Linked DNA regions of Homo sapiens. The protein of the gene in region 1 purifies or fractionates together with the protein of each later gene. This does not show direct contact. Each region holds a gene or a part of one and is shown on either strand. Other genes may lie near its edges. The genes, in order: COPB2, ZDHHC3, SEPTIN3, RUFY1, NBAS, RTN4 and MCM8.

What was found.
Region 2: the proteins of COPB2 (region 1) and ZDHHC3 purify together in Homo sapiens (affinity purification with mass spectrometry; one large-scale study listed by BioGRID and IntAct). This does not show direct contact.
Region 3: the proteins of COPB2 (region 1) and SEPTIN3 purify together in Homo sapiens (affinity purification with mass spectrometry; one large-scale study listed by BioGRID and IntAct). This does not show direct contact.
Region 4: the proteins of COPB2 (region 1) and RUFY1 purify together in Homo sapiens (affinity purification with mass spectrometry; 2 studies listed by BioGRID, with this or other methods). This does not show direct contact.
Region 5: the proteins of COPB2 (region 1) and NBAS purify together in Homo sapiens (co-immunoprecipitation; 2 studies listed by BioGRID and IntAct, with this or other methods). This does not show direct contact.
Region 6: the proteins of COPB2 (region 1) and RTN4 purify together in Homo sapiens (affinity purification with mass spectrometry; one large-scale study listed by BioGRID and IntAct). This does not show direct contact.
Region 7: the proteins of COPB2 (region 1) and MCM8 purify together in Homo sapiens (affinity purification with mass spectrometry; one large-scale study listed by BioGRID and IntAct). This does not show direct contact.

Annotation. Positions count from the first base shown.
Region 1 is NC_000003.12:139,372,648-139,376,147, reverse strand, and holds part of COPB2 (coatomer subunit beta'), read left to right. Parts: intron 1-533; coding exon 534-680; intron 681-1,559; coding exon 1,560-1,659; intron 1,660-2,339; coding exon 2,340-2,482; intron 2,483-2,735; coding exon 2,736-2,935; intron 2,936-3,500. UniProt on the Homo sapiens protein: The coatomer is a cytosolic protein complex that binds to dilysine motifs and reversibly associates with Golgi non-clathrin-coated vesicles, which further mediate biosynthetic protein transport from the ER, via the Golgi up to the trans Golgi network.
Region 2 is NC_000003.12:44,962,675-44,966,174, reverse strand, and holds part of ZDHHC3 (palmitoyltransferase ZDHHC3), read left to right. Parts: intron 1-3,500. UniProt on the Homo sapiens protein: Golgi-localized palmitoyltransferase that catalyzes the addition of palmitate onto various protein substrates.
Region 3 is NC_000022.11:41,986,443-41,989,942, forward strand, and holds part of SEPTIN3 (neuronal-specific septin-3), read left to right. Parts: intron 1-763; coding exon 764-845; intron 846-1,179; coding exon 1,180-1,317; intron 1,318-3,124; coding exon 3,125-3,242; intron 3,243-3,500. UniProt on the Homo sapiens protein: Filament-forming cytoskeletal GTPase. May play a role in cytokinesis.
Region 4 is NC_000005.10:179,599,054-179,602,553, forward strand, and holds part of RUFY1 (RUN and FYVE domain-containing protein 1), read left to right. Parts: intron 1-214; exon of another isoform or gene 215-336; intron 337-431; exon of another isoform or gene 432-582; intron 583-1,019; exon of another isoform or gene 1,020-1,045; intron 1,046-2,838; coding exon 2,839-2,933; intron 2,934-3,010; exon of another isoform or gene 3,011-3,213; intron 3,214-3,323; exon of another isoform or gene 3,324-3,500. UniProt on the Homo sapiens protein: Activating adapter involved in cargo sorting from early/recycling endosomes. Regulates retrieval of proteins from endosomes to the trans-Golgi network through interaction with the dynein-dynactin complex.
Region 5 is NC_000002.12:15,470,835-15,474,334, reverse strand, and holds part of NBAS (NBAS subunit of NRZ tethering complex), read left to right. Parts: intron 1-10; coding exon 11-268; intron 269-987; coding exon 988-1,113; intron 1,114-3,500. UniProt on the Homo sapiens protein: Involved in Golgi-to-endoplasmic reticulum (ER) retrograde transport; the function is proposed to depend on its association in the NRZ complex which is believed to play a role in SNARE assembly at the ER. Required for normal embryonic development.
Region 6 is NC_000002.12:55,040,452-55,043,951, forward strand, and holds part of RTN4 (reticulon-4), read right to left. Parts: intron 1-3,500. UniProt on the Homo sapiens protein: Required to induce the formation and stabilization of endoplasmic reticulum (ER) tubules. They regulate membrane morphogenesis in the ER by promoting tubular ER production.
Region 7 is NC_000020.11:5,953,652-5,957,151, forward strand, and holds part of MCM8 (DNA helicase MCM8), read left to right. Parts: intron 1-956; coding exon 957-1,039; intron 1,040-1,450; coding exon 1,451-1,600; intron 1,601-3,474; coding exon 3,475-3,500. UniProt on the Homo sapiens protein: Component of the MCM8-MCM9 complex, a complex involved in the repair of double-stranded DNA breaks (DBSs) and DNA interstrand cross-links (ICLs) by homologous recombination (HR).

The DNA.
Region 1 (3,500 bases):
GTTGTTAGGACTACATGCGTGTGCCTTCATGCCCAGCTAATTTTTTACTTTTTACTTTTTTGTAGAGACAAGGTCTTGCTGTGTTGTCCAGGTTGGTCTTGAGCTCTTGGGCTCAAGTGATAACTTCCATCTCGGCCTCCTAAAGTGCTGGGATTACAGGTGTGAGCCACCACACCCAGCAACTTTTAATATATCTTACTAAATCTACTTTCATGAGCTGTATATTAAATCTATAATAAAATAATTTCATAACATCTAGATTCCTGGGCGTCACTGTGGATTGACTGACTTATAATCTCTAGAGATAAAGCCTGGAAATTGGCACTTCTTTTAAAGAACGCCATAGTGATTTTGCTCCCTGAAAATTCAAGTAAAATGAGAAAGAACAAAAACCAAACAGGATAAAAAATAAAATTTGATAGCTCTTCTCTCCTGGGCTTTGGCATTTTACATAATGTGTCAGAAATATGGTGGATTTGCCTTTTGTAAAGCAAGGCCCCATATTGACTGGCCGATGCTGTTTCTCTCTGCAGGTGTGGCAGTTGGGCTCTTCGTCACCAAACTTCACTTTGGAAGGACATGAGAAAGGCGTGAATTGCATTGATTACTACAGTGGTGGGGACAAGCCATACCTCATTTCAGGTGCAGATGACCGTCTTGTTAAAATATGGGATTATCAGGTACAGTTTTTCATAACCTTACTTCCATATGTTAGATATGTTTCTTACTATTTCTTATAGGACAGTTAAGACTTGGGTTGTTGAAAACTGTTCACAGCATAATAACTTAAGGTATCAGTATTTGCACCTAAACTGTGTTCCCAGAATTCTCCATAAAAATGAAAACAATGCATATCAAGATTTTAAAAATAAAATACCAACATGTTCATATTTCATTTCATAATTGCATTTAGAAATTTTAACATTTTAATGTTGAATTATCCTCCATAATCTTCATTGATAGACTTCTATTCATTTTTGTAAGCTAGCAGATCAACAATTACCAACCATTTTGCCAAATCGTACTCTTGTAAACCTAGTTATGAATTCTTGTTAACATGCTTCCTATCTCTAAGATTTTCTTATATTTTGATATTTTTGTTTTCCACATCAAAAGTTCCCATAAGCAATTAATAAAATGAGGTCTAGAAAGTCAGTTTTTCCTTGAAACATTTTCAGATTTGTACTTAAATCCAGAATAAAAATATTAAAGGCTAAAGCAGCACTGTCTACTTAGCCAGTGATGGTAGGTGTGAGTTTTAAGGGGGAAATCTATTATCCTGAGAATTTGGGGGAATAATATTCAGACAAAAGCCTTCTTGGGTTTTTTTCCCCTTCTTTAAATGTGATAGTTACATTTACATTTATTTTACAAAGTAATTAGATAAAATATTCATATATACAACAAGATCATCCTATTTCAAAAATTTCTATATTGGATATTATTTAGATTTTCATGACTACTATCATTTATAATGTATCTGTACACTGAGAAAATTAAGGGCGGGCTGGTTACATGTTTTTCATTAATAAAACATGTTTTCTATGTCTTAATTACAGAATAAAACATGTGTGCAGACACTGGAAGGACATGCCCAAAATGTGTCTTGTGCCAGCTTTCATCCTGAGTTGCCAATCATTATCACAGGTTCAGAAGATGGTAAGTTAGAAGGGTATGTTTATTCCTGTGCTAGTAACTACTCAGTGGGCATTTAAAGCAAGTAATGTCTCTGCATTATAATTGTAGGTTTCCAAGGATTTTGATATTTTTATTAAAGTACCAGACTTAAGCTATAAAAGAGTAAAGGGGCATTATTTTCATCATCATCATCATCATCATCATCATCATCGTCATCATTCTCATGTATTTTGATTCTGTCACTTAAATAAGAGGACCGTCAGCTGTCCTAAAGAGAAACTGAAAAAGCATGTGCTTTGGAGTCAAACAAACCTGGGTTCAAAATCAGGCTCTGTTATGTCATGAATGTGTGTTTGGGCAAATTATGAAATGGAAACATATATATCTGCTTCATAAAATTATAGTGAGAAGAAATTGTGGGTAGAAAGCATCTGGCACATAGGAAACACTTTACCCAGGAAATCCTGTTATTATTTCATGTTTAAAATCGTAATTCTTAGTTTTTGTTTCTTATATGTTATGTGTTATGTTTATGTTGCTTTTAAAAATCATTTAAAGACAGTAGGTCAAAAAATTGGTCATTAAGCTGCCAGGAAGTGTTATCTGTTTGAATAGAAAGACTTCTATGGGTCTCTTTCACCTGACACAGTTTATTGTCGGATGTTTGTATCAAAAGGGAGTATTTACATTGTTCTTTTTAGGAACAGTACGTATTTGGCATTCAAGCACCTACCGGCTTGAGAGCACACTGAATTATGGAATGGAGAGGGTATGGTGCGTGGCCAGTCTAAGAGGGTCAAACAATGTCGCTTTGGGCTATGATGAAGGGAGCATCATTGTTAAGGTAATTATACTATCCCTCTCAGTAGGTGGACATAGGCAAAACCATTTTCTTTGTATTTTAGTACTGTCATCTTCCAAGTAACCAGTTTTATAAAACTGGCACTTCTTTCATTAAGCACTAGACATTAAGCAATGAAGATTTAAAGTGGAAGAAAGGAAATGGAGCTCTCTGTTAGGTGAAAAAAATAATCTGTTTTGTTTTGGTTTTATTCATTTTCCTTTTCATTGCTGAGAGCTATTTTTCTTTCTTTCAGCTTGGTCGGGAGGAACCTGCCATGTCCATGGATGCCAATGGAAAGATAATTTGGGCCAAGCATTCAGAAGTCCAGCAGGCCAACCTAAAAGCAATGGGAGATGCTGAAATTAAAGATGGTGAAAGATTGCCACTGGCAGTAAAGGATATGGGCAGTTGTGAAATATACCCTCAGACTATTCAGCACAATCCTAATGGGCGGTAAGCCATCACCAAAATTGTCCCTCAGCTTCTGTGTATGTTAGAACAGGTTTGCAGATCCACAGTCCACTCTTGCCCTGTGGTTGGCATCTCTAATCATTCCTCAATGTGCTTTTGCCCTGGCCTCACAATCCTCAACACAGCTGCAGTCAGCCATGCCACTTGATCAAGTTGGCACAAAAGATGGAGCATGTTTCCCATCTGGACTTGTTCTATACCACACAATTTTGAATAGTTAAATAGTAGTTTCCTGTTATTTCGCATGCATTGAGTTTGTGTTTTTGTGTGCTCCTTTGAGGGCAAGGAGTATGTCTTATGCTGAGACTTAGTAGGTGCCCTCTCTAAATGCTTGCTGACTCATTGCTCTTTCAAGAAGAAAACCTGACTCTGAGATATGTGTCTTTTGAAAAAGTTTTGGGATTGATAATAATTCTGTTTCTTATTTGTAATTCGAACTGTCAGTTGAATTTCTCCCTTAAGATTTGTAAGTCACCAAACATCTTGTGAGAGAGGAGTTTCTAGCACAGTGAAGTCTAAACCTGTGGAGCTTTAAAATTATTTTACA
Region 2 (3,500 bases), about 94 Mb from region 1:
GTTCCTACTTGTAGGGAGCCAGAAAGTTTAATCCCTCAATTTTTGTTTTAAGTATATAGATTATCCTTATCTCTAAGCCAAGGGGAGATCATTGCACCTGATTTCAAGTTTGTTAAACCAGTCTGTATACAGCTATTTCATACAGGCTCCAATGGTTGAATTAATTGCCCTTTGTTGATGCTACTTTGTACCGTCTCAAGATGTGTGCTGTTCACGAGTGCATGAATGTTCATGTGGATGTGAGAATGTGGGTGGATGCGGTGTTTTAGAAAAGTAATCCTCACAAAGTACTTTGAGGTGCTTCCAAAGATTTGGTTTTAGATCTGGCTGAACTACTCCATGACTTTAGTGTGGGATCTTGTCTTATAAAAGCAGGTGAATAGGACTTGTTGGCAATCTGAGAGGATGGGGGTCCTTGGTACACTTGCTGGACTGAGAACAGTGGCATTTTGGGACTCTAATACATTCAGTAGAGAACTTTATGTTTGATGTGACAATCATGCTTTGACCCTGTCCATAAAGCATGGACTGTGGGTCAGGGTTTTGTTTTGGGTTTTTTTGCCACATGATAAAGATTAGTAGGGATTTGCCCCTCACTCAACAAATGATGTAGCTGGATTCTGCCCATCACTAGCAGTCAACACTTGGCCAGGCCAGTTCATCCTGGCCAACCCGATGAAGTGCCACAGTGGGATGGGGCCTGAGAGCTTGGCATTAGCACCACGATGTTCAAACCCTTTGAGCTGCCTACCATGGAGAGACAGCATGGGGACTGAGGCATAAGTGGTATACCCCAAGGCTGACTCAGCAACCCAGTCCCTGGGGCTCATGGAGCCCCAGACTCCACTTCACTAAGTATATTTGTGTCTGTCAGTGTGGGTTAGTGGAAGAGCACACTTATGATAAGGTATAATGAAGCACGTGTGTTATGTATGGATCTGGAGGCAATTCTCTGGACCACAGGCAGTTTTTGTTGTTGCTTTTAGAATAGCACTAATTTCAGGCATTTCTTGGTTTTGGTTTCTAGAACTCTATGAAGGAATACTAGCTGATTTCCTTTGACTTCCCACACACTGCCCCTCACAGAGCTCAGATCATCATTTTGACACCACATCTTATCAGGATTGCTGGCACTAGGGAGCTCCAGAACACCTCTGGGCCTGTGGATCCGTTTCCCCTGTGACTTCCTTACCCCCGCCCCTCCCCAGGCTTAGTTCCTTTGCCTTTCTGGGCTTCAGTGAACTCTTCTATCAGGTGAAAATAATAATTACTTTGAACATGGAATACTAATATATGGAGGCGCTAACTCTTTTTAATGCTATAAAACCCTTAGCCAAAAAACTTCAATATAGATTACTATAATTCAAGTTACAAAATGATCATTGTTCTAGATCTTCCTTGGAAAACTATTAGCCACTTAGAGGAACAGAAAACCTAATACCACCAAAATGAGACTCAGGCCTGTTGCCCTTGTGCCTCCCTGGACTTGTCGGCCTCTGGACGCAGACCTCTCATCTGTCTTGCCTGTCACTTCTAGAGTGGTCTTGCCACAGCATGAGTACTATTCCTGCACAACTTTCCTCAGAAACTTTATGGCTCACCAGTACCTTTCAGGATGAAATCCCATCTCATTATGAAGTTTAGAGGCTTTCTAAAACACAACTTTCTCCTACCTATAAAGCCTCATCTCGAATCACCTCCTCTCTTTCCTACAAAGCCTGCATCTGTCCACAGACACGCACACAGCCCTGGTCATCCTGCCCCTCCTCTTCCCCACTAGTACCACCAATTTTCCTGCCAGGCCCACCCGGCCCCCCTTGCCTTTTTGTAAGCAGTATGCTTCACTTGGCTCCAGGTGCTGCTCAGAGCCCACCCCTTCAGAAGTCCTTGCCATGAAAAAGTCTATTTATTTCACTTATGGTTGTTGGGGTTTTGTTGCTTTTGGTGTTCGGGTTTTTCTGGTACTATTTGTCCCTTTTTTGTGCTATTCATTAGTCACCTATGTGTTAGCATTATTGTGGGTGTGTCTGCTTGATATATGTGACCAGTCACTCAGGAATTATTGATTTGAGCACATATACCAAACACTAGGCTACAGAGCTAAATAAAATGAGACTTGCAGGTTGGTGGAAAAAAAGCAAATAAGACTAGTGTTATTAGGTTGGGAGCTGGGGGAGGGAACTGGCAGGGCCTGAGCAGGGCAGCACACACACATTATTGTCCACATCATCCCTCGTGTGTGAGCCCCCTGCACAGCTCCTTGCATTTAGTGGCTGCTCCATGAATGTCTTTTTGAGTTGAACTGAATAAAGAGAGGAGTTTTTAGAGACCAAATAGGGCAAGGGGCCGGGGTGAAGGAGACAGGGAGGGGGAACTAGAGGAGGCTGCCCTTCTGAGAGCATGTGCTGGCAGATGTGGTTTGGGGCTTAGGGCCCATCTTCGGGGCCCTGTCCCAGAAGCCTGAGTAACCAGTTCTGCCCAGCTCCTTGGAAGTAAGGACACTTGTAGGGAGGTGGGTCCTTGGCAGAGGTCTACTGCTCAACCCTAAGGATTGGAGTTTCTCTAATTCAAAATAGAAAAGGAAAAGGGGGTCCATATTTGCCTTTTTTGTTTTTGTTAGGGGTAGGATAAAGGGAACATATACAGTTTGTTTCGTGGTGGGTTTTTTTTTTTTGCCATATTTCTCAGATTTTCAGTTGGCTAATTTAAGGAACAAATCTTTTCTTGAAAGCTACTTTTGTTGCTTTTGGGAGGTCTGGGGGTTAAGCAACCTTTTTATAGCAGTATGCCTTTCTTGGTTTTGATGGGGATATTTTGAAACTCTAAGTGTGGAATGTGCCCTTCAGGTCAGGACTTGGTGTCTGGCCCTGCCAGGTACACCTTTGGCTTGGTCCTTTCCTAGATCACAGGTTCTCGCTCACCAGTGAGGGTCATGGGAAAACAGAGCTCCTCTGTACACTCTTTGGTCCCACGTTGTTTGAAGATAGAACATTCCGGTTACTTGAGTAAGAGTCAGTCCACTTACCTCATGGTCCTACTTGACACACTCTCCACCATGCAGAATATGGTCACAGTCCTGAAACTAAGCAGACAGTGCCTCTAAGAAGTGGGCCTGGGATCACAAATCTCATGCATTCATTTAATCAACACATGTATTAAGTGGCTACTCTGTGCCAGCCACTGGGCTAATAAGTCCTCCTCTCAAGGACTATATGGTGAAGAGCTTAGCAGTTGTTCCCTGAAGGCCTATTACCCAAAATGACTACCCTTTTGCAAATAAATCTAACAAGACTTAGTTTATTTGCTTTTCTAGCCCACAGCCAATTAGCAGTAGTAAATAGAGGATATGTGGGTATGACTGGTGACCGTAGACACAGAAATGAGTAGGCAGGAATGGAGGAGGAAGACAAAGGATCATATACAGAGATGCCAGAACGGCAATTATAACAGTCTGAGCAAGCCAGTTGATGTGAAGCCGAGACCCAGTGAATTTCAGTAGC
Region 3 (3,500 bases), on another chromosome or scaffold:
ATGGAGTTCGAGACCATCTTGGTCAACACAGTGAAACCCTGTCTCTTTTTTTGTTTGTTTGTTGTTTGTTTTTTTGAGACGGAGTCTTGCTTTGTCGCCCAGGCTGGAGTGCAGTGGTGCGATCTCGGCTCACTGCAAGCTCCACCTCCCGGGTTCACGCCATTCTCCTGCCTCAGCCTCCTGAGTAGCTGGGACTACAGGCACCCGCCACCACGCCCGGCTAATTTTTTTTGTATTTTTAGTAGAGATGGGGTTTCACTGTGTTAGCCAGGATGGTCTTGATCTCCTGAGCTCGTGATCCGCCTGCCTTGGCCTCCCAAACTGCTGGGATAACAGGCGTGAGCAACCACGCCCGGCCCGAAACCCTGTCTCTTAAAAAAAAAATTAGCTGGGTATGATGGTGCATATCTGTAGTCCTAGCTATTGGGGAGGCTGAGGCGACAGCATCACTTGAGCTGGGGAGTTCGAGGCTACAGTGAGCTGTGATTGCACCACTGCACTCTAGCCTGGGTGACAGAGTGAGACCCTGTCTCTTAAAAAAAATAAAAGAAGAAGAAAAAGAAATGAGTAGAGAGGGTATTCCAGATTCCAGGTACAGGGAACAGCATAAGCCATGATATCGAGATGGAAAAGACCCTAAATTTGACTTTTCCAATAACTGATCCTGAAGACAAGGCCTGGGTCTCCCTGGCTAGTAGGCTGCCAGGTACCTGGGGTCAGCTGTAGGACTGACCTCTCTGGTACATTTTCTTTTCACCCCCAGTGATAGAGGAAGGCGGTGTCAAAATGAAGCTGACCGTCATCGACACCCCAGGCTTTGGAGACCAAATCAACAATGAAAACTGGTATCTGTCTGCCTCTGAGATCTTTGCCCTAAAGACTCTGCTGGGAAGATACTTACTATGGTGCAGATTCATTCACGTTGAGAACCATCTGCACCCTCCATGCTCTGTAGTTCCCGACAGCCCAGGCCAGGGCCCCTGGGGAGCTCCACCCCTGCTAACTAACCATCCAGGAAAGCCATCGGTGCGGGGGCTGAGGGGGAATCTGGCAGCAGGTATCCTAGGCCCACCAACCAGGGAATGACATGAATGTAAGGAGATTGCTACCAGATCATGCCTAAGCTGAGCCCTAGGTCTTGTTCTTCTGATGCATCTATCTACTTTCCCTCCCCATCAGCTGGGAGCCCATTGAGAAGTACATCAATGAGCAGTACGAGAAGTTCCTGAAGGAGGAGGTCAACATCGCCAGGAAGAAACGCATCCCTGACACTCGTGTCCACTGCTGCCTTTACTTCATCTCTCCCACAGGACACTCGTATGTACCAACCCTACCCCTATTGTCAGGCCTGGTCTGGTTTGTATCATCTGTGCCCATCTGGATTGGATGATCCATACGTTGACTCAGCTAGGCCTCCCTAGCTGAGTCCTAGCCCTTCCAGCCAGATGGGTTGGTACATAGTCATGGCCCATGACCTTGGGATTCCCTAGACTTTCCACGAGGAAGTTTGACTTTCTTGCTAGGAGGTTAAAGCTGTCCAACATCAGCCACCAATATCTGCCCACTGGTGTCCCAGCAGCATGGCACAACTGTATCAGCAAAGAGGACTTGGTGAATGTGAGCAGAGGGCACTTCATTTATTCACCAAATACCTGCTTTGGAAAATAATTGGAGTCGGAGGGAGCAGCAAGAAGGGTGAAATAGGGCAGTGCAGGGCTCCTGGATTGGGGCTGGTGTTTGGAGGGTAGGGACCCAGTTGTAGGCATTTAGAAGGTACCAGCCTGGAGTGAGGCATTGTGTGTTCAGAGATGAAGGCCAACCATTGTCATGAAGTACTATCTGATAGGCAGAATAAGACACACACAAGCATGTTGGGAACTCTGATTGTGAGTGACAGGTGGGCCCCATGAAGGAAGTGCTGGGAACAGGCAGAGGATGGAGATCCTAGGGGGCAGGCCAGAAACCTTCCTGCAGAGACCGGGGGAGGGGGGTCCCATAACATTACTAAGCCCAGCTGCTGGGCCAGAGTTAAGCTCTTCAGAGGATGGCACAAGCAAGGTAAGCCCCAAATTTTCTAGGAACCAGGCAGTGATGGTAGGGGGAGAAGAGAGATGAAACAAGACCCCTGGGCTAGACCCAGGAACTCAACAGAAGGCTGGTTTTATCCCTCCCTAGGCTTCGACCCCCTGGTCAGAATGAACCATCAGACAGACTGACTTAGTGAGTCCCTGAGATTGCAAAATAGAGCCAAGTTGGGGTCTCAGAGCCTGAGGTAGGATGGGGGCATAGACTGTCAGATTGTGGGAAGGGCAAGGCCTCCAGTTTGGCCCTGCAGGACTAACTCTGGGGGCTAGGAGGAGACCTGTCAAGAAGTAGTCTGATAGGCAGAACAAGATGTACACACTAGGCACGGTGGCTCTCGCCTATAATCCCAGCACTTTGGGAAGCCGAGGCAGGAAGATTGCTTGAGTCCAGGAGTTCAAGACCAGCGTGGGCAACATGGCAAGACATTGTCTCTACACAAAATTTAAAAATTAGCCAGACATGGTAGTGCGCAACTGTGGTCCCAGCTCCTCTGGAGGCTGAGGTGGGAGGATTGCTTGAGCCCTGGAGGTCAAGGCTGCAGTGAGCCAATGACCATATCACTGCACTCCAGCCTGGGTGACAAAGTGAGACCCTGTCTCAAAAAAAAAAAAAAAAAAAAAGACACACACAGTGTTGTTTTTTTTTGGTTGTTGTTGTTTGTTTTTTGTTTTTGAGACAGACAAAAAAGGAAAAAAGACACACACGCACAAGGACATATGAGTAGAGACAGTAGTCCACAGATGCTCCCAGGAGAAAGAAATCCCTGAGTCAGAAAAGATGTCCTGAAGTGGTGGTTTGAGGGGGGCTTAAAGAGAGGCAGAATCTGCAAGGGGACTGAAAAAGAAAAAGGCAGGTGTTGAGGCTGCTCTACAGACGGCAAGGCAGTGGGGCTGTGTCGGAGACGAGAGGTAGCAGCCTCTTGGCCTCAGCCAGATGCCCAGCCCAGTCCTCTTCTCCTGTGGGTGTCCTGGAGTGGTGGTGGTGGCTGAGTTGGGGAGGGCAAGGTGGCTCTGATGATTCTGCCTTTTCTGTGCCCCAGCTTGCGACCTCTGGATCTTGAGTTCATGAAACACCTCAGCAAGGTTGTGAACATCATCCCTGTCATTGCTAAGGCTGACACCATGACCCTGGAGGAGAAGTCTGAATTCAAGCAAAGGGTGAGAAGGCCCCCTGTCTTCTTTTCCTGTTCCCATCCCCTCCTTTCTCTCCGCTGGGTTCAGGCCATCTCCTAGCCCTCATCATTCTGCCTTCACCCCCACCCTCAACCCTCCCCCAATTCTCCACCCCAGCCCCCTTCTTAACCATTCAAGAGGCTGAGGTTGGTGGTATCTGGGGACTATGATGAAGAAAAGATGGCACAGCTCTGGGCTGCCTTCTTCCCACCCTCCAAACCTACCTGTGAAGACCACTGAATA
Region 4 (3,500 bases), on another chromosome or scaffold:
GAACAGTGTCCTCACCCGTGTGCAAGGGGCCTGGGGAGGGAGCGACCGGTGAGCAGAGGCTCCAGTGAGTTATGCCCTGCAAAGCACCTCTTGGGTGGAGACTGCAGGAGCAGACAGCAGTGTGAGGAGCAAAGAGGCGGCCTCAGGCGGCAGGCAGGAGGAAGCCCTTCATGGGCCCTGGGAGCCAGGGGAAGGAACGTGGGTTTTATTTTACCAGAGTGGGCAGCTGGTGGAGGGACAGGATCCGTTCTGTTTGCGGATGGTCATTGGCTCCTGTGTGGAGAGTGGGTGGTAGGCTCGCAGGAGAGGAAGCTGGGAGGAACCAGTAAACATCTCCTACCACATGCCAGCCTCACCTCAGCCACTGTGCCCAGGGTCGGGTCATCCCTGGGAAGCAGACCGACCCCAGCCCTCCACTTCCCCTACATCACCTCAGTTCCATGGAGGACCCTCTCACTTGGAGGCATGGCCTGGATGCTGTGGGCTTCAGAGGGCGAGAGAAGTGGGGTCCAGCAGGCCTTCACTGTCTGGCTGTGGAACTGGACCTCCCAGGAAACTCCGAGGCCGTGTGGAACATTTGCCCTAATGTAAAATCATCGGCTGTTTTCCCAGAGGGGAGGAGGCTCTGCGATCCTGGATGGAGCTGACTGCAGCCTGGGGCGCTCTGGGGGGCTCCTCCCACGTGGGGATGGCGTGCCCTCTTCTCAGGCCCCTGCGCTGCCGAGCGCTGCAGGAAAACTGAGCCCAAAGCAGACCTCCCCTCGGCACCTGCCCCGGAGGGGCCTTCAGGGCCAGGGTGGCTTCTGGACCTGGATTTTGTTGTGTTGAACGTGGTAATGGACACACTGCACGATTCGAGCGAGTCAGGAAAGGCCCTTTTGATTTCCATTGGAAAGTGCCTGGAGTTGTTGGGGAAGGGAGAGCTTCCTCAAGAGCCAGATCAGGCTTGGAGAGTGGAAGGGAGGAAGTGGAGGGCAGAAGAGGACTTTCAGAAAGTCCCGCCTCATCACGGGGCATACCTCCTTTATTCTGCTTCAGAATGCTTCTGTCAAAAGATTCGAATTACACAATTACAGCCCGCCCCAACAATAGGAACAAAACAATGTCTAATAACCCCAGTTAAGCCACAGCTTTGTGCTTTGCAAGCCTGTGCATGGAAGCAGAAGCTACGGCACAGGGTGTGCAGAGAGCCACCCCGCCACTCGGGCCCGAGCTCCACCGCTGCTCCCAGTGGTCCCAGAAACCCCAGTTACTTTCTGGGTCTCCATCCTGGCCTTAACAGACTGGCTCAAGGTGCACTGGCCCCAGGTGTCAGTGCCGTTGCCCCCTGGGGAACTCCCTCCGTGCAGGGCTCCTCACATGGTCTAGCCAGCCTCCAAGTGGTCTAGCCATGAAATGAGGTCCCAGGTCACCCCCTTCATCATCCTTGACCAGTGCTTTCCAAAAAAGCAGCTTTTTCAGAATTGAACAGGAAACCACCTTTCAAACTAGTCTTTGCTGATGCAAGGTTCGTGTGATTTTGTGTACAGTTCTTCTATAGATTTTTTGAGATAGCAATCTGTTTTGTAAAATGTTTATCTTTTAAAAAGAAGCTCAAATAGGCAAAGCCTCATTTGTCCTATGATGGTAACTTTTTTTTTTTTTTTTTTTTTTTTTTTTTTGAGACGGAGTCTTGCTCTGTTGCCCAGGCTGGAGTGCAGTGGTGTGATCTCGGCTCACTGCAACCTCCGCCTCCCCAGTTCAAGCGATTCTCCTGCCTCAGCCTCCCGAGTAGTTGGGATTGCAGGCATGTGCCACCATGCCCTGCTAATTTTTGTATTTTTAACTAAAGGAGGGGTTTTGCCATGTTGGCCAGGCTGGTCTTGAATGCCTGACCTCAGGTGATCCGCCCACCTCAGCCTCCCAGTGCTGGGATTACAGGTGTGAGCCACTGCGCCCAGCTGAGGGTAACTATTTTTAATGTGGCTGATGAATGTAACTATCCTGTCCCATGTCTCTGTCCCCAGCTGCAGAGCCCTCGTCGAGTGCTTGCCTTTTAGCTGCCCAGTGTCAAGAGTAAGCTAGCAAGAAATAATCTTGAATGACATTAATACAGGACTGCATTTTGCTCTTTTTTTTGGTTTTGTTTTGTTTGAGATGGAGTCTTGCTCTGTCGCCCAGGCTGGAGTACAGTAGCACCATCTCGGCTCACTGCAACCTCCGCCTCCCGGGTTCAAGCAGTTCTCTTGCCTCAGCCTCCCAAGTAGCTGGGATTACAGGTGCCTGCCACCACACCCAGCTAATTTCTGTATTTTTAGTGGAGACAGGGTTGCACCATGTTGGCCGGGTTGGCCTCAAACTCCTGACCTCAGGTGATCCACCTGTCTTGGCCTCCCAAAGTGCTGGAAGTATAGGCATAAGCCACTGTGCCTGGCCACCTTTTGCTCTTGAAAAACATTCTGATCTGCTTGTTGCTCTGGTTGCTGAATCTTTTTTTTTTTTTTAAAGGCCAGTGCAGTGGCTCACGCCTGTAATCCCAGCACTTTGGGAGGCCGAGGCGGGCAGATCACGAGGTCAGGAGTTTGAGACCATCCTGGCCAACATGGTGAAACCCCGTCTCTACTGAAAATACAAAAATTAGCAGGGCATGGTGGCGGGCACCTGTAGTCCCAGCTACTTGGGAGGCTGAGGCAGGAGAATCGCTTGAACCCAGGAGGCGGAGGTTGCAGTGAGCCAAGATCGTGCCACTGCACTCCAGCCTGGCAACAGAGCAAGACCCTGTCTCAAAAAAAAAAAAAAAAAAAAAAAAAAGGACCGTGTAATCCTCTGTCCAGCATCTGGTTGGTTTGTTCATTTTAGGAGTTGCGGGAGCTTCAGGACGAGAAGGCAGAGCTGCAGAAGATCTGCGAGGAGCAGGAACAAGCCCTCCAGGAAATGGGCCTGCACCTCAGCCAGTAAGAACCCCACTCCCCTTGTCTGCCACTGCAGGCACACCAGGCTACCCACCACATCCCTCAGGCCCCAAACCTACCTCCTTTTGGCGAACGGAGGGTGGGCCATTTAGGAGCTCAGTCCGCCGTTCACGGATGAGCTCTCAGGAAGCCCGGCCTCAGAGGGGCCCAGCACTGATCTCTGCTACCCACATGGGGTGTCAGCGAGCTCTTAGTTAATTCAGGAAGCACGTTCATTCCTAGTGACCAGGACACTCCTATTCCTTAGCTTCATATCCAGGGCCTGAGGGAACAGATGGGCAATGAGAGGATCGCTTGGTCAGCCTACAGTCAGGCCAGAGGGAGCAGGGCTGGTTTGGGAACGGAAGCCTGGCACAGTAGAGGTGCACTCACCCGCCTTGCACAGCACAGCCCCCTTCCTTTCGGGGAACTGGCCACTGCATCCGCCAGAGTCTGTCTGTCTCTGCTGCAGGTGCTGATGGGGTGCAGACCCTGGTAGTTCTGCTCCCCTCTGACTTGACAGCTCTCCTCCTTGGTGTCCCAGTCTAGATAGGTTGCTGTGGACGCCTG
Region 5 (3,500 bases), on another chromosome or scaffold:
TTCAATTTAGTGTGAGATTAAACTTGCCCCCAAACGATCTCGTTTGGAGACTAGAGCTGGAGAAGAAGATGAAGGAGAAGAGGATTCTGATTCTGATTATGAAATATCTGCCAAGGCTCGCTACTTTGGTTATATAAAACAGGGCCTTTACTTGGTGACTGAAATGGAGCGATTTGCACCACCACGGAAACGCCCACGAACCATTACTAAAAACTACCGCCTTGTGAGTTTGCGCTCCACGACACCAGAGGAACTTTATCAGAGGAAGGTGAGAGAGTAGCATATTACTACCCAAGTTTGAAGTCATCAAGCTTTTCTTTTATTGAGAAAAAGTTAATTTTTTAATAAAGGAGAAAATTTCAAGAGGGATGTTGGATCATTGACATGTTAAAAATATCAGTTCTATAAAGCTTTTTAAAATAATGCTAATCTTTGTACCTAAATAATCAAAATCAAAACCATGGATAAAAATTGAATTCACTTAGACTGATTATCCACTTGGTGGCTTAGCTCATTTCTTTGCTACCCTTCATGTGGCCTTCAGCTCTCCCTTTATCTGTGTTTAAATCAGCCATCTACAGAGGGTGAAGGAAGAAGTTCAGACTTGCTTTCTAGTCCAGGGCTTGCTTGGGAAGCCGAGGTGACCAGCACTGTGTGTTCACGTGATTTGTGCTGTTCTTGCAATGTCGTGGTAGGAGCTCTGGACTAGAAGCCGGGTTGTTCCATGGTTGTCTTGGTTTTGCCGCTGTTTTACTCTAAAACGAGAGCTTTGCACCTTTTATCTCTCATCTTTCTGTTGAAGTGCTGAAAGAAACACGAGATCTTTCTGCTCCTCAAAATATCTGTGAGCTTCTGGTGCCACAGTGCACAGGAATTAGTGACATGCTGGATAAGTCCAAGGGATTATCATCATTCATTGTATCATCATCAGGACCCTGTGGATAATTCAGTCATGTAACATTCCTGTCCTCGTGTTTTTATCTGAAGATTGAAAGTGAAGAGTATGAGGAAGCCTTGTCCTTGGCTCATACCTACGGCCTGGATACTGACCTTGTATATCAGAGGCAGTGGAGGAAGTCAGCGGTCAACGTTGCTTCAATTCAGAATTATTTGGTATGTTTAAATATTTTGGTAATGTGGTAAAATGTATATTCATGTAATATCTTTTGTTTATAGGGCTTCATTTTAGAGTACTTTACATTGCTGACTTTTCTATAATACAGCCAATGAAGTACAATTTTCTCAGCTGGAAAAATGGTCTTTTTGTTAGATTTTATTGCCCCTGCAACTGGACTTTGATGCTGAATACATGTGAACAAATATTCACAGATAAACCAGCTAACTACTTGGTCTCGGCCTAACGTTTTCTTTCCTGTACCACAATCACTTCTCTTTACCTGCATGAGTCAAGAGCTAGTCAGATGCCAGAAATCACACAGTAATTTAAACAGGGAAATTTACAATATGGAGAATTATTTTCTAGTAACCAGAGATGAACTATAAAGGATGTGAAGAGAACGCTAAGGACTACCCTAGGGCTGAAGGGACATATCCATGAAGGGAATGAACTTGGAAGGGAGGCCCCTCCCCTAGGCTGGGATTCAGACCCATTGGACCAGGAGTGGTTGCAGCATGTAGGATGGAAGAGAAGTTCTCTGGGTTGCCTTGAGCCAGGGCTGGTCCACGGTTGCCAAGGTTGGCAGTCAGGGAGATATGGGATGGATAGGAAAGCTGGACGCCTGCTTCTGGGGGGGGCCAGTGAGCTGAGGTTGGGGTTTAGAAGACCCCAGGGACTAGGAAGCAGGAAACCCCTACCAGCATGCATGTGGCTCAAGGCTGGTAGATAATTAAGGAATCATGGCCAAGACTGGCAAGAAAAAACTGTCTACTCCTATAGGCAGCCTTACTGTAGCTTCCAGTCTGGGAAGCTTCCCTCTCAGGTGCCTGGGTGATTCACTAGAAAACAATCTGCCCATGAGAGTGTCACTGAAACTCAGTGGGAGGTTGTCAACAGAGGGAGGAAGCGGGGAAGTAAGTGCCACTTGATGTTGCCCACGTGCCTTGTTGGTGGCCAAGCCATAGGAGCAAGAAGAAAAGAACCAAAGCACATCAGGACTAGAAAGCAGAGCCTCTTCCTTTGCAGTGGCCCTCCAGCACCCAGAGCTTAAAATCGTGTCAACCACAAATGAGATATGCTACCACAGAGCTGGCTTTGAGGGGAAATTTGGAGCTGAGAGGCAATAAATAGGTAACATATATGAAAACTGCGAAATATGCCTTTTTAAAACTTAAATCTCAAAACTGGATACTTCCTGTTACCTGCCTCCCATAGTTAAGGTTAATATAGTCTTGTCTCAATTAGTTTTAGCCGCTGCAACAAAAATATCAGACTATGTGGTTTCAACAGCAGAAATTTATTTCTCTTAGTTCTAGAGGCTGGGAAGTGCAAAATCAAGGTGTTAGCCAATTTCGTTCCTGGTGAGGGCACTCTCCTGGTTTGCAGATGGATTTCTTTCTTGCTGTGTCCTTATATGGCAGACAGCAGAGAGAGAGAAAGAAGGCTCTCTACTGCCTCCTCTTATGAGGACACCAATCCTATCATGGGGCCTCCACTCTCATGACCTAATTGCTTTCTAAAGGTCTCATTTCCAAACATCATCACTCTGGGGATTAGTTTTTCAACATATGGATTTTGGGGGACATATTGATTTCATAGCAAGCCTATATGTTTTAACCTTTGGCATCTTTGTAAGAAAGAATTATAGTTAGACTCATGGCATACTTTTAAAAAGGTTGAGACTTCTGATCTTAACATATAGAAAGGAAAATACCTTTGCATTGTGGAAGATTATAGGAAACACTGGGAAAATTTCATGATGATTATTTCCCTAAAAGTTTTATACGTTAGTAATTAAAAGTAAAAATATAACATGAAAAAGTTGTATGGAAGAAGATGATGCATCAGCCAAACAGGATGATAAACCTAACATTAATACAAGCAAGATATCAGAGGTGAAAGAGCATGAGAGGTAATGAAACGGAAGAAGATAAAGTTGCTTGTATTTTCTTTAGAAAATCAAAACACTAATTCTGTATTATTTTTCTTTCTTGTTTTGTGATCTAAGACAATGAGCTCATGAGTTCATGTATATCTTTTTCTGGGATACAGTAAAGGACAGTTTTTGTCTCTGAGGGAGTTGAGGGATGTTAAGAGAGACAAAGCAAGTACTTTTTTGGGGAGGGGAATATTTCGTTTAGTTAAATAGACAGTTAAGAGCAAGAGCACTATGCTAGGGACTGTGAAGGGGTACAGGACAGGCATAAATGTGGCTTTTGCTCATAGGGAGCTTATGATTTTTTTTGTTTTGTTTTGAGATGGAGTTTTGCTTTTTTTTGCCCAGGCTGGATTGCAATGGTGCGATCTCGGCTCACTGCAGCTTCTGCCTCCCTGGTTCAAGTGATTCTCCCGCCTCAGCCTCCCAAGTAGCTTGGGACTACAG
Region 6 (3,500 bases), on another chromosome or scaffold:
TAGGTCACCTCCATCTACGGTTGTCAGGGCACTGAGATAAATGAACTCAATAATGGCACCTTCCATTTAGGCGAGTTTATAAATCAACCTACAAAGTTGGGGAGAAAGAACACGTAGGCAGACCTGGAATCCTTAAGTAAGCTTCTCTCTTTCCACAAAAGCAGTTCACAGATCTGTAAATATGTCCTGTAAGGCCAATCACAAAACTCCTCTGGTTTTAAGAGCAGAAAATTCTTTACAACTAAGGGCCTGTATTTTTTCCTTCATCTGCTACCTATACCTCTCATAAGTACAACCTCTATTCATCTTTCTTGTCCTCTTACTCAGCCCTAGGCCTAGTTAAAAAAAAAAAGGAATATATTAATTTTTTTCTTAATATTGAACTTCCAAGAGACCACCAATATAAGCAGCAACTCCAAACTCTTGAACAACAAAACTTTATAAACTTTCTGTATCTGTGGTAACAATTCCATCAATGAGAAAAACAAGCTATTAAAGAAATAATTATTTTTGAAAAGTAGAGGGCCACCTATGTAAAGAGACTGCTTTAAAAAAAAAAAATCCAGTATTTGGCAGCTATAGCTCCTAATACAAGAGTACAGAGAATATTTCTTTCTTTCTCAACACAATTTTTTTTTTTTTTTGGAAATGAAAAAGCAGGAAGACTTAGCTTTCTTTCTCAGTCAATTATCAATTGAAAAGAGAGAGCCAAATACCTGTATAATTCAGTATGTTACAAGGAGGCTAGAATATTTATTTTTAAAAGTCTCTAGTTCACCTAATTATATGCTAAATTTTTTTTAAATACATGTTAATAAAAACCACGTGTTTATGGAAAAATACACAATATCAACACCGAATGTATTTCAATTCTCCCCAAAATTAATCCATAAATGTAATGCAACCTACTAAAACTCCAACAGAGGGAGAGGGGACAAGATAAAAAAAATTTTAAGATGAAGTAGAAAATTATACACACATAAGATAGCCAAGAAAAATATTTATGGAAAAGCCGTTTAGCTAGTATTTAAAAATTATAGCACAACAGTCTGATACTTCTGTGTGAACTGACAGATAAATGGAAAAGCAGAGGAAATATTTCACCCATACTACAAGAATATGACAAAAATGGTACTTCAAAGTGGTTAAGAAGGATAATTCAAAATAAAAGGTATTGGAACAAATGGGAAATAATCTTGAAATATAAAATTATTTCACTACTTCACTCTCTAGAACAAAACAAACTGCAAATAAATCAAATAATTAAATGTTAAAATGAAATCATAAAAAGTATAAAAGTACTTACTAGGAGTAAACATGGGGGAAAATTTTTATGATCCTCAAGAAGGATTTTCTAAGGATTACATAAAACTCAATGACTTTTTTCACTTTTATGACTCAAAGTCATAAAAGAAAATGATAAATCTGACTACATAAAAATTTCTAAACAGAAAAACATACCATATGGTCAAAATACAAATAACAAATCAATAAAAAGTTTTCAAGACATATGACAAAAGGCTAGTTTCCTTACAATGCAGATTAAGTGAATCTACATACATGAGACCAAAAACCCAAAAGAATAGGCAAAAGCTGTGATCAGAAAAAATTTGACACCTAAGCCTATGAAAAATGACTCAAATTTAAAAGAACAATTTGCTAAACAATGTATTAGTTCACTAATATACTGTGTTGGTAAAGATATAAGGGAAAAGGTACCTTAACAGGTTGGTGGGAATAAAGGTTGGAACCATTCTTTGAATGACACTTTGGCATTAGCTACCAACATTTTAAATGCAAATATCCTTTGAAGCAGTAATTCTACTTGCACAGATTTATCCTACAACATATATAATGGCATGTATTCCCAAAGAAGTGTATACAAGAGTGTTCACAGAAATAGTATTTGTAAGAGAAAAAACTAAGTATCAACCTAAATAACCATCAATAAGGGACTGATTAAATAAAATATGGTACATCCCCAGAGTCCTCTGCATCTATTTTTGTGGAAAATAAAGTGAAAAGGATATACATGTATAAATAAATATTTATCCACAGATTATCTCTAAACAGATACTCAAGAAACTACTAACAGAGGGTGGATCTACAGAAGACAATTTGTGGAAATCTGGGTAACAGGTAGAAAGAGTTACTTTTCTGTGTATTCTTGTAGTACTGTTTGGAATTGTTACCTTGTATACATAAATAAATAAATGCTTTCGTAAGATTTGGGATTTTTATTGAGAGAAGATATTATAGTAATTCTAGAACTATACAGAATATGAAGATCAGCATCTTTCTCATTCAACAAACTGAGTGCCTATCACATCTAAGGCACTGCAATGCAGACACAATGCATACAGTCCTTTTCCTCAAAGAAAAAGGTCACAGCACCTTTCCTCAAGGAGTACACTGTCTGGTGGAGGAAAGAAATCAGTAACCATACCATTACCTTATATAGAATGATATATACTATGAAGAGGTAAGAACAGAATATTATGGAAACACGTGATGAAAGCAACTTAAAAATCAATGATCATCATTCCAAGAAACATAAATATCAATAGCTTAAATATGAAATTATCAACTCCTCCTTTGGGGTTAAAAAGGATGATGATGGCATTAGTCTGAGAAAATCTTAGCATCAGTAAAGCTGGGTCTCATCATTTTGCATACCTATGTCCTGCACTAGCTATCCACAAAGGTCACATTCATTCAAACACTACTGAGAACTATGGTTTTACCATTACAGTTCCCATCCCTAGTGCTGTCATCCTCAGAAGAACCTGATCCCTTTAGAAACAGGAACAAAAAGTCTCAAAGAATGTACCATAAGTATAGTATATCTGCAACATTTACTTCTATTTATTTAAGGGTTCCAGGGAAGAATCAAGAAATAGCCATTCAGTTTATACTTTTATCCTGGGCTAGCAAAGTACCTTAAAAAGGAACCATTAAATTGAGGCTTTGAATCAAGTTATTCTAATAAGTTGCTTGAAGGTATATTATGAAAATAAATGGCGGGGCACAGTGGCTCACACCTGTAATTTCAACACTTTCAGAAGTCGAGGTGGGAGAACTGCTTGAGCCCAGGAGTTCAAGACCAACCTGGCCAACATAGTAAGACCCCATCTTTAAAAAAATAAAAATAAGGCTGGGAGCAGTGGCTCACACCTGTAATCCCAGAATTGTGGGACACCGAGGCAGGTGGGTCACCTGAGGTCAGGAGTTCAAGACCAGCCTGGCCAACATGGTGAAACCCCGTCTCTACTAAGAATACAAAAATTAGCCAGGTGTGGTGGCACATGCCTGTGGTCCCAGCTACTCGGGAGGCTGAGGCAGGAGAATTGCTGGAACCTAGGAGGTGGAGGTTGCAGTGAGCCAAGATTGCGCCACTGCACTCCAGCCTGGGCTACAGAGCAAGACTCCACCTCAAAAATAAAATAAAATAAAAATAAAAATAAAAATATATTTAGGCTGGGTGTGGTGGCTCACGCCTG
Region 7 (3,500 bases), on another chromosome or scaffold:
TTTAGTAGAGACGGGGTTTCACCGTGTTAGCTAGGATGGTCTTGATCTCCTGACCTCGTTATCCGCCCGCCTCGGCCTCCCAAAGTGCTAGGATTCCAGACGTGAGCCACCGCACCCAGCCGCATACTTTTTTTTTTTAGGAAAACTAGACGTTTGAGGTCCAGGACCCTCCCTGCCCCATACCAGGCATGCAGTAGTCATTTTGTGAATGAATAGAGTACTTTACAAATGTTTTCTTTATTGGAAATCTGTTCGTTTTTTTCCATCAATAGAATCTGTTTCATGAATGATCTTTTGTTCCTTTAGGATGTATTAGCCACCAGCACTCCCATTGCTCCCCTAGCAGATAGCTCAGAACACTATAAGTGATCTTTGGACAGTCCTAAAGATGGAGTTCAAGAGGTGCCTTAGCCTTCACCATCTGTGCTTCCAAACTACTTTATTGTACTGTTCTTCTGTGAGAGACATATTTGAAAATGTAGAACTTTAGAGTGTTAAAAAAAAAAAGGCTTTTCAGTTTTGCCACCAGGGTCAAGTGTTGGTCTGTCTCCTGATCTCAGGAAAGACTGTGATTGTGATTGTCTTCAGCTCTGTCAGAGTAAGAGCTTAGTTTATGTGTCTGGCTTTGGCTTTATTATAATTTTTAGTTTAAGCTTATTGTCTAAATTATCTGAACTAACATGTCCTATTAGGTGTCAAAGATGCAAAACAAAGTTTCCCAGATAGTGGGGCTTTTAGAGAGAGAGAGTTTCTGTCTGCATTTCACATTATGCAAACCTAAATTTGTTTTAGAATCTTAAGTTTACATTCTATACTAGTTCTTATATGAATGTAATCAAAATACAAAGCAATTAGAAAAAAATCATCTACCATGTATATAGTGCTGCTTTTGTCTCATGAAAAATGTGCATGTACCTGTGTGATTATTTGTGCTAATGCCATATTTGTTGGATTAGTTTACAGCGATAGCTCTCCTTTGATTGAGAAGATTCAAGCATTTGAAAAATTTTTCACAAGGCATATTGATTTGTATGACAAGGTAAGATTCCTCTACAGCAAAGCTACCAGTCATGTGCCATCTTACCAATGTATTCGAGGTACTTGTGATTATGATCGTAGGCACTGGAGTCAGACTTCCTTGGTTCAGACCTCAGTTCTGCCACTTACCTGCAGTATGGACTTTGATTAATTACTTCTCTGTGCCTCAGTTTTCTTTCATTTGGAGATAGAGGTATAAATACCTACCTCAAAGGATTGTTAAGAGGCAGTAATACATTAATATATTTAAAATATCAGAACCATGCTTGGCACAAAGCTTATACTTATGTCATACTTACCATTATCACATATAAACATTGTATGCTTTCTCAAAGTCTATAATAGAATGCTCAGTTAATGGTAATTGACTACAGAAAAGCAATTATTGTTTTCATACTTTTATATTTTATAGGATGAAATAGAAAGAAAGGGAAGTATTTTGGTAGATTTTAAAGAACTGACAGAAGGTGGTGAAGTAACTAACTTGATACCAGATATAGCAACTGAACTAAGAGATGCACCTGAGAAAACCTTGGCTTGCATGGGTTTGGCAATACATCAGGTAACTATTTGTCTTATGCATACTTTTGTCTAAACTTTTTTAATGTTTGCACACACATGCACACCTTGTCTAAGTTTAAAGGAAGATTTTACAGTGACTGTACTTTCTATAAGAGATACTTAGCTTTTACGAAAAGATGTTGGCTAGAACTGAGAGGTTGCAGTTCCGTTCTGAAAGATACCATTCATTCTATATACAACAGCTTATCTAAATGAAATATTTACCTCCAACTTATTTGGATTTGCTTAATCTTGCTAAAGATTGTGCAGAAATTAAACTTTGCTTTCAAGAAGTTATACAATCTCATAGGGAAGATAAAACAAGGAATCATGGTGTTATCGGTTATGAACTTAGAGCAAAAAAGAGCAACCTTAGATTTAGGTTCTGTGGCATGAAGCAAACCACTGAGTGTCCCTGTATATCAAATGTAAATAACAGTTTGTACTGTGCTTGCCTGAGTTTTTTTTCAGGGTCAGGTAATACAACATATATGAAAACATTTTTAACTTTTTAAATTTTTTAAATTTATTTTTTATTTATTTTTTTGAGATGGAGTTTCACTTTGTTGCCAGGCTGGAGTGCAGTGTCATGATCTCCGCTCACTGCAACCTCTGCCTCCCGGGTTCAAGTGATTCTCTTGCCTCAGCCTCCCGAGTGGCTGGGTGCACCACCATGCCCAGCTAAGTTTTGGAGTTTTAGTAGAGACGGGGTTTCACGATGTTGGCCAGGATGGTCTTGATCTCTTGATCTTGTGATCCGCCTGCCTTGGCTTCCTAAAGTGCTAGGATTACAGGCATGAGCCACCTTGCCCGGCCAAAAACATTTTTTAGGCTAGCAAACAGATACATGCTTCAAGGTAATGAATAGCAAATCTCAGGACAGGCATACACAAAGTGCTGGGGCATTCAGAGGGGCATTCTTCTACCTCTTGCCTGTGCTGTCCATTCAACATAGAATCCCCTTCCCTTCACATGGACAGATTATTTGGGCCTAGCTCAGTTGTCTGTCTGTAAAACCTTTCTCATGACCACTTTTCGAAACTTGCATGGTATTTTGTCTGTACATCTTTATGGTCCTTATGACAATTACAGCTGTATATATGCATCTTATTTTGCCTCTTAGGTTGCCAGCAAACTGCTGTGTACAAGTGGTATTAAATGTTTGTTTGTTGTTTATTTATTTATTTATTTTGAAATGGAGTTTTGCTCTTGTTGCCCAGGCTGGAGTGCAATGGTGTGATCTTGCCTCATTGCAGCCTCAGCCTCCCAAGTAGCTGGGATTATAGGCATGCACTGCCACACTTGGCTAATTTTTGTATTTTTAGTAGAGATGGGGTTTCACCATGTTGGTCGGGCTGGTCTCAAACTCCTGACCTCAGGGGATCCACCCACTTTGGCCTCCCAAAGTGCTGGGATAACAGGTGTGAGCCACTGCGCCCAGCGTGTTTATATTATTTAATGTTAAATGCCAAGGGAGTGAGTATTAGGTATTTTAAAGGTCATTTTTATTTTCTGTGTCTTGATTGGTCAGTGAATATAGAGAAATAGGAATGCATTTTTTTTTTTTTAATTAGTATCAAGAGGTGATGGTTTTGGGGACTAATGTAAGGGCTTTTAATGTTAGGTTTAGTTGGGACAGAAAGTAGCAGACTGGGATGCTGGAGTTTTTCAGCACAGGGACAGCAAAATCCAATGTAAAACATCCACTATAAAGTAAGTAGTCATAATTAAATATTAGATATTTAAAGGGCTGTTAAAGTTTTCTGTTTTTATTCTGTTTCTGTCCATAAACTTTATATTCTCTATAAAAATAGAGTTCTGTATAAAGAGGATGTTTTGTTTTCCAACTTCAGAGTAAATGTCTGTCCTGTTTAGGTGTTAACTAAGGACCTTGAAAGGCA